Homo sapiens: one gene and its partner. The gene in region 1 interacts genetically with each later gene. Each region holds a gene or a part of one and is shown on either strand. Other genes may lie near its edges.

Evidence for each region. Genes that interact genetically often act in the same process or in processes that back each other up.
Region 2: changes in SLC23A1 (region 1) and SREBF2 together harm fitness less than expected from each alone (positive genetic interaction), as found in Homo sapiens cells (one large-scale study listed by BioGRID).

Annotation. Positions count from the first base shown.
Region 1 is NC_000005.10:139,372,296-139,377,573, forward strand, and holds part of SLC23A1 (solute carrier family 23 member 1), read right to left. Parts: intron 5,203-5,278; coding exon 5,107-5,202; intron 1-5,106.
Region 2 is NC_000022.11:41,874,533-41,878,208, reverse strand, and holds part of SREBF2 (sterol regulatory element-binding protein 2), read right to left. Parts: intron 2,873-3,676; coding exon 2,758-2,872; intron 2,667-2,757; coding exon 2,485-2,666; intron 981-2,484; coding exon 788-980; intron 268-787; coding exon 86-267; intron 1-85.

The DNA of each region.
Region 1 (5,278 bases):
TCAGCCACCCCCACTTCCCATAACCCAGTCCTAAGGCAGACTTCTGGAATCAAGTATCTTCCTTAACTATCATTTGGTCCTAAAACGTGGCTGAATCTATGGTTTCTGAGCTCCTAACTTGGCCAGAGCTCTAAGGAACACTAAAGGATACTAGTTATAGTAGTATTTATTGTGTAACTACAGTGTGCCAGGCTCTGTGCTAAGTGCTTTAATTTCATTATCTTGTTTCTTGAAAACATACCCCTGGGAGATGTATAGACACCATTGTACAAATTTTTATTTTATTTTATTTTATTTATTTATTTTTTTGAGACAGTCTCGCTCTGTTGCCCAGGCTGGAGTGCACTGGCACGATCTCGGCTCACTGCCACCTCCTCCTCCCGGGTTTAAGCGATTATCCTGCCTCAGTCTCCTTAGTAGCTGGGATTACAGGCATGCACCACCATGCCCAGCTAATTTTTGTATTTTTAGTAGAGACGGGGTGTCACTATGTTGGTCAGGCTGGTCTTGAACTCCTGACCTTGTGATCTGCCTGGCTTGGCCTCCCAAAGTGCTGGGATTATAAGCGTGAGCCACTGTGCCCGGCCTATACAAAATTTTAAGATGAAGAAAGGGACAAAAAGTTAAGTAATTGTGAACCTAAATCTGTGAGTATGTGGTAATGTGTGTTAGGCCCATGGGGACCAAATCAAGTCCAGATTGCGTTCTGGGGGTAAGGGAGGCATATTTTGAAACACTATAATCAGTGTTAATATTTCATATTATGATTCCATATGTGAAAAACTCATTTTTATAATACAAACTTCAGAAAGTCAAGCTAAATAAAATCTTTGGAGGTAGGGATACACCAAATAATTTGTTTTTTTGTGTTGTGTTTTTTTTGTTGTTGTTGTTGTTTTTGAGACAGAGTCTTGCTCTGTTGCCCAGGATGGAGTACAGTGGGTTGATCTCGGTTCACTGCAACCTCTGCCTCCCAGATGCAAGCGATTCTCCTGCCTCAGCCTCCCGAGTAGCTGGGATTACAGGTGTGACCCACCACGCCCGGCTAATTACTGTAATTTTAATAGAGATGAGGTTTCACCATGTTGGCCAGGCACTGGTGTCGAACTCCTGACCTCAAGTGATCAGCCCGCCTTGGCCTTGCAAAGTTCTGGGATTATAGGTGTGAGCCACTGAGCCGGGCTAGTAATTTTTACAACTAGGAATTCTCCCTCAGGTGGGGCAGGGTCACATGAGATCTCAGGTTTTCACAAGAGGGCTGGGATCGACAAAGACTGAAATACTATAAATCTAGCAGGAGTGGGAATTTCCACTTGCTGGCAGCCCAGGCTGAGAACAAACCCATGAGTAGCACAAACCAAGTTATGTTCCAAAATCTCACAGGAGAGGGCACTGAGGGAAGGTGGAGTCCCTAGGGAAGACTACCTGGAAGAGACACTGTTTGGGCTTGGCTCTACAAAGGGCACACACAGTCTGGAAGAGAAACCTTGATTGGGCTTGGCTGTACAAAGGGCACACACAGTGGGCACAGTAGAGTGGGATGAGCCATAGGTGTGGCGTAGGACTATGTTTCTGGTGTCCGATTACCTCGCACCACTGCCAAGACACACATGGCAGCCAGCCCAGAGCTCCCTCTAGCAGACCAGTCAGCCTGCCCACTACATCCCAACCTTCAGTGCCTTCTGTACTTCTCCAAGCCCCCTCCTTTTTCCTAGGCCTCACCTACTCTCCCTCATCAGTAAACCCTCCCAATAACTCCAGCCCGGCTTCCTTGACTTCATTGCTTGCTTAAATCTAGTTTTACCACCTATCTTGTGCCAGGAGCTCCTCTAAACAAATTGTTACTGACTTACACTTTTTGGCATATCCTCCTCAGTGTCTGATTCAGGGCCAAGCTGGTAAGCTCTAGCAGCATGTGCTGAACTAAACGGACTGCCCTCTAAGGTTGGGCTCTGGATAGGTAAAGACAAAGAGCACCCTGTGTCTACTAAAAATACAAAAAATTAGCCAGGCGTGGTGGCGGGCACCGGTAGTCCCAGCTACTCGGGAGGCTGAGGCAGGAGAATGGTGTGAACCTGGGAGGCACAGCCAAGATTGCGCCACTGCACTCCAGCCTGGGCGACAGAGCGAGACTCCGTCTCAAAAACAAAACAAACAAACAAACAAAAAAAACAAATGCAAAATGGCCCATCCCCAGCAGGAAGTTAAGGGCTGGAAAAGGCTTTTGCTATTCCATGGTTAAGGACAGGGTTTTGAGCCAGCTAGACCTTAGTTTGAATCCAGGTTGTGTGACCTTAGGCAAGTGACAACCCCCCTGAGCTTTAGGTTCCTCAGTGGATACTGAAGACTGCTGAGCTTATGTGGCATGACACACAGGATGATTCCTGGCAGGGACAGTTGTGATGCTCAGGTGGGTTGAAATGTGGGGTATAAGGGACTCAGGCAGTTCTGCAGCTGTTGTTAAGGATGACTGGATAGCTTAAACTAGCCACCCAAGTCACAAAGAAGCCTCTTCATGTACAGATGCCTACCCAGATGCTCTCCATCTCCTCATATTCCCTAGGCATTGAGGCTGCCACTTGACTGTCTCAGGCCCATAGGATGGTCTGTTCCAGCCCCCAGTCTAGCATCCTCTAAATGGGCAGGGGTACCATGTTCAAATAGCCACCCATCCATCGAAGGGACAGCTGCTACCAAGAGCACCTTCCTTTGATTCTGCCTAAAATCCTACGGGGAACCCTGGCCCTCCTCTGTCCTCCCCAGCCCCAACCCACCAGCTGTTCAGAGACAGCCTCTGACACCTATGTTATGTGAACATGAACACTTGGATCTTGAGAGAGAGGGAGGCAGACAGGACCTGTGGCTGTGATCAGGCTGGTAAGTGACAAAATGGAGGCCCATCATCTTGCTACTACCATCCCTTATGTCCCTATACTGATGCAGTCATTAACTCCCATCTCCATGGAGCCTTCCCCAGTCCTGCAGCCCAGGTCCCCTGAAACCCTCCAGCAGAGGCAGTATGGTGCAGTGGATGGGACACAGGCCATTGACTGCGTCAGATGGATGTTGTTAAAAATCCCAGATTTAGCCAGATGGTATATAGCATGCACCTGTACTCTCAGCTCTTCAGGAGGCCGAGACAGAAGGATTGCTTGAGTCCAGGAGTTTGAGGCTGTAGTATGCTATGATCACACCTGTGAATAACCACTGCACTCCAGCCTGGGCAACATAGACCCCCATCTTAATTTAAAAATAGAGGCTAGGTGTGGTGGCTCACGCCTGTAATCCTAGCACTTTGGGAGGCCAAGGTGGGCGGATCACCTGAGGTCAGGAGTTTGAGACTACCCTGGCCAACATAGTGAAACCCTGTCTCTACTAAAAATACAAAAATTAGCTGGGTGTGGTGGTGCACACCTGTAATCCCAGCTACTTGGGAGGCTGAGGCAAGAGAATCGGTTGAGCTCAGGAGGCGGAGGTGGCAGTGAGCCGAGATCACGCCATTGTGCTCCAGCCTGGGTGACAAGAGCAAGACTCCATCTCAAAAAAAAAAAATTGAGGACAGGTGTGGTGGCTCACACCTATAATCCCAGTACTTTGAGAGGCTGAGATGGGAGGATCACTTGAGCCCAGGAGTTCAAGACCAACCTTGGCAATAAAGTAAGACCCCGTCTCTACAAAAAATTCAAAAATTAGCCGGGCATGGTGGCATGCACCTGTGCACCGGTAGTCCCAATTATTTGGGAGGCTGAGGCAGGAGGGTCACATAAGCCCAGGAGTTTGAGGCTGTAGTGAGCTATGATTGTGCCACTACACTCCAGTCTGGGTGATAGTCTGAGACCCTGTCTCAATTAAAATATACATCCCAGATTTGCGATGTTTTAATTTTTTTTTTGAGATGGAGTCTCACCCTGTCACCCAGGCTGGAGTGCAATGGCACGATCTCGGCCCACCGCAACCTTCGCCTCCCAGGTTCAAGCAATTCTCCTGCCTCAGCCTCCCGAGAAGCTGGGATTACAGGCACACACCACCACACCCAGCTAATTTTTGCATTTTTAGTAGAGATGGGGTTTCACCATGTTGGCCAGGCTTGTCTCAAACTCCTGACCTCGTGATCCACCCGCCTTAGCCTCCCAAAGTGATGGGATTACAGGCATGAGCCACCATGCTCGGCCGTGATGTTTTAATTTTGTGACTTTATGACTTTGTGGTTTTTGAGGATGAAGTAAGACACTTAGCTCTGCCTTACCCATAGTATATGTTTGCTAAATGTTAACTGTTTGTTATCAGAGCACCTGGTGACATTTATTTTATATATTTACTGGCATCTTTATGCGGGCCCCACAAAGTATCCTCCACGATCTTTGCAAAAAGCTCTGGTACCAAAGGGAAATGTTAGTGGCTCTTCTAGTCGCCATTGTGGCAGGCTGCTGACATATTTGGAGTGGATGGATTTTGCCAACAAACTGATGCTGCATTTATCTCTGTCCTACTCTGAAGAAAGCAAAGACATCCCTCAGCCCAGTGGCTATTAAGAAATGGAGAGGAGGCCAGGTGCAGTGGCTCATGCCTGTAATCCAGCACTTTGGGAGGTTGAGGCGAGCGTATCACTTGAGGTCAGGAGTTCAAGACCAGCCTGCCCAATATGGTGAAACCCCATCTCTACCAAAAATATGAAAATTAGCTGGGCGTGGTGGCAGCCACCTGTAGTCCCAGCTACTCAGGAGACAGGAGAATCACTTGAACCCTCCGGGAAGTGGAGGTTGCAGTGAGCTGAGATCGCACCACTGCACTCCAGCCTGGGTGACAGGGCGAGACTCCATCTCGGAAAAAAAAAAAGGAAAGAAATGGAAAAAGTGGAGAGGAAAGGATTCACAGGACCCAGCAGTGACTCTTCCGGCCCCATCCTCTTCAAGACCTCTGAGGCATGTCTGTGCCTCATTCTCTCCCTCCAGCCAGTGAGCACTCCACCAGCCCATCTATTCCTGATGCTCCCTGCAGGGCCTGCATTGCATGGGACCTAACCACACAGCTCCAGCTCAGAGGCCATCTGTTGGAGTGCATGAGTCCAGCCTAGTTCTTCATTCCCCTCCCAGGACCGAACCATACCTGGCACTGTGTTGTCAAGTATGAAAGCAAGGCACCCGCCCACAAACATCTCCGTGGTCAGCAGCACAATCAGAATCTGATCCACTTCAAGAATGCCTGTGGAATAGGCCAAGGGCCAATGGGTGTCATGGCCCAATCTGGAGAGCAGAGTTGAGGGACTTCCTCTTGTGCA
Region 2 (3,676 bases), on another chromosome or scaffold:
CTATCATAGGACTTTCTTTGACACGAGTTGCTGAATTATTTGTCAAGTCTGGGGGAGGATGGGGAAGGGCGGACACAGAACTCACTCTGGCGAGATCCAGATCTGCCTGTTTCCGGTGCCTCCAGAAGGTGACCGAGGAGCGCGAGTGTGGCCGGATCACTGGCTCCCCATGAACCAGCAGCTTCACAAAGACGCTCAGGACAATCACACCATTTACCAGCCATAAGAGAAGAGTAGGCATCATCCAGTCAAACCAGCCCCCAGAACCTAAGAAGGAGCGTCTCAGCAGAGTCTGCTAGGAAAGGCCTTGCGGAGCAGCCAGGCACCTGACAGACCCCAGCACTATCACAGGAAAGAGTCTTCTACCTCATTTTCAGAAGAAAGGGCAAATAATTCTATAATCTAAACAGGGCTAATGACTGTAGCCCTTCTCATTATGGAGCTGAGTGCCATAAAAATCTTTGTTTTGAAAGGGTTGAGGCATTGGTTTTGCAACCTCAGATAAAAAACACGATATCCTCCTTCAAATAGGTACCACCCCTCCACCCCAGGGTATTTAGAGTAGTGTGGGTCCCTGATTTGTTTTGCTCATTCTGACTGAACTTGGGCTTGCCTTGTTACTTCTAAAATGGAACTTATGCCAGTCCCTATCAGAAGCAAGCAGGTGGGGGCCCACTATAAAAGCCCTTTGGGACCTGGTAGCCAAGCCAAGAAGTTTGTACACAGGGTCCTTCTCCTGCCATAGTGGTCCAGCCATGCCCAGGTGGGGCAAGGGGCCTCCACCTACCTGACTCGAATGACAGGACACTGCGGCCAGAGCCTGAGTGTGGGTGCTGGTCAGAGTCGTGGGCCCCTCCCCACTGCAGCAGGGAAGTCAGGGGGTTAAAGGAGAGGCACAGGAAGGTGAGGACACACAGAAGAATCCGTGAGCGGTCTACCATGCCCAGCGCCACAGGAGGAGAGTCTGGCTCATCTTTGACCTTCAAAACAAGGCCTCGAGGTTGGAATAAATACTGCATAGGTTTTTACAGCACTTTATAAATACATATATATATATTGAGAAATGGTTATGAGGTTTAAATTCAAGTCGATTAACTCAGGACTAAGGCCAGATGGGAACTGAGAAGCCTATAATTCACTAACTGCTGCTCAAACATTGGCACATTCACCTGCTTGCTAACTGAGAAAAGTACATGTTCCAAAGAACAAAGGTAGAAGAGATTTTCTTTTAAAATAGAAATCTACCACAAAAGAGAACACACTGTATGATTCTGTTTCTGTATAATTCCAGAACAGGCAAAATGAATCTAAAGTAACAGGAAACCAATGAATCAGTCATTGTCTGAGGCTGGAGAGGGGTGTGGGAAACTACCTGCAAAGGTGTACAAAAGAGCTTTTTGGGGTGATGGAAATGTTCTATATCTTGATTACAGTGACAGTTACATAGCACTGTACATTATGTTAAAACTCTTGGTACTGTACTTTTAAAGTAGGTATATTTTATTGCATTTAAATTACACCTCAATGAAGTTGATCAAAGACCGTATTTAGTGTGAATCTATCTAAAGGATTTTACCTGTTCTAAAACTGTATCATTGTCTACACCCACCCCACTCTCCATTTTACAGCAGGAGGGCTGAAGCCAGATCTCCCCTGCGCCCCAATGTGTATATAGCATGTCATTTCTTTTCAATATTTTAAAACCATTTAAGATTTTCTTCTGATGACTCAGAAGCCCAGCTAATTCAATTTATATGTCAAACAGCCTGTTGTTGCCAAACAGAACCACATTTATAAGAATATTTCAAAAATGGAGCTTCCTTAGTAAAATTAAGTATATGATACAATAAACAGCTTAGTCAAAAACAAACACTAGGAGGGAACTTTGTGCTTTCAGAGTCAGAAACTGCCGAAGTCAAAATACAGTACAAAACCCAGTGGTCTCTACAGGTTCCCAGGAAGATCATTAGGCTCAGAGCGTCTCTTAAGTAATTCCATTAAACTACCATTGCCAGGGGCTTTGACGATTAAAGGCCCATAGGTAAAATGTTATCTGTTAGACTGCAAATTGTAATCATTTCTGAAAAGAGGACCCAGAGGCAGCCTCATCCTAAACCAACTGATCAGCCTCCCAAAGTGGTCTTGCCAGGCCCATTAAAGGCAGAGTGAAGCAATGAGGTGCCTCCAGCAGCTCCCAACGCCCCCACAACAGCTACTCTGCATTCTCGTTCTGGATCTGGCACTCATTCCTCTCTGACGGGGCCTATCGGCAAGGACCAGTTAAACCTGAGGGACTGTTTCCCCCCGGAGTCAGTTTTTTCTTTCTTTATTCTCCAGGACCTGGCTAATTTCACAGAATTCCTGTTTTTCTCCAGGCTAGGCCCTCTTAACATGCGGCCTGGCCTCATAACTGTGACCTCCCAGCTATCTTCTTAGGGGAAATGGGAAAGATTCCAGGGATCAGGAGATTTCAAAAGTCTGTACCTTTGCATCATCCAATAGAGGGCTTCCTGGCTCAGAGTCAATGGAGTAGGGAGAGAAGCCAGCCTGGGACCCTGAGTCAGAGGCTGGGGGGGACATCAGAAGGACATTCTGATTAAAGTCCTCGATCTTCAGGTCCACCTCATTGTCCACCAGACTGCCTAGGTCGATGCCCTTTAGAAGCTCTGCAAAGAAAACCCCACCTGGTGAAAATGATCTGCTTTTACAAAGCCCCACCTGGGCCAGGGCTGACAAGCCTTTTCTCAGCACACTTACTGTTCTTTTGATTTGCCAGCTTCAGCACCATGTTCTCCTGGCGCAGTTTATGATTGACCTGCTGCAAGTATTTGATGTAATCAATGGCCTTCCTCAGAACGCCAGACTTGTGCATCTGGGTAGGAAGATGAGTGAAAACACAGTGAGACCAGTGCAGGCTACAGTGTGAAAAGAGCAGAGCCCTAGCACTTGGGATGACAGCATGGCTCTGTGAGAGGAGAAACCAAGTTCAGATGCTGGTCCTCCCAATGATTAGCTGTGCCACTCGGGAGAAGTTATTCCATACCTCAGAACCTCACTTTCCTCCTCATTAGCACAGAGATAATGAAAGCGCGTGAATCACAGGCTTGCAGCAGGGCTAAATGAGATAATGAGTGTAAAGGGCTTAGCCCTGAGCCTGGCAAATAGTTGACACTCAATAAATATTAGCTATTGTTCCCACTTCTTATAATAATCCTAGCACCATAACAAACTTTAACGAAAACAAATGAAAAAAACAACCACAGCATTGTTGGACAGTTATCTTTTTTTTTTTCTTTTTTCCAAGACAGAGTTTCACTCTTGTTGCCCAGGATGGAGTGCAATGGCGCGATCTCAGATCACTGCAACCTCTGCCTCCCAGGTTCAAACAATTCTCCTGCCTCAGCCTTCCAAGTAGCTGGGATTACAGGCACCTGCCAGCACGCCCGGCTAATTTTTTGTATTTTTAGTAGAGACGGGGTTTCACCATGTTGGCCAGGCTGGTCTTGAACTCCTGGCCTCGTGATCCACCCGCCTCAGCCTCCCAAAGTGCTGGGATTACAGGCGTAAGCCACAGTGCCTAGCCTGGACAGTTATCTTAAGGCATAGATTTTTACTTAGGATGTACAGCTTTCAGATTTGTAGGCAAGGAAAATGAAATTTTCTTTCAAAATAGGGT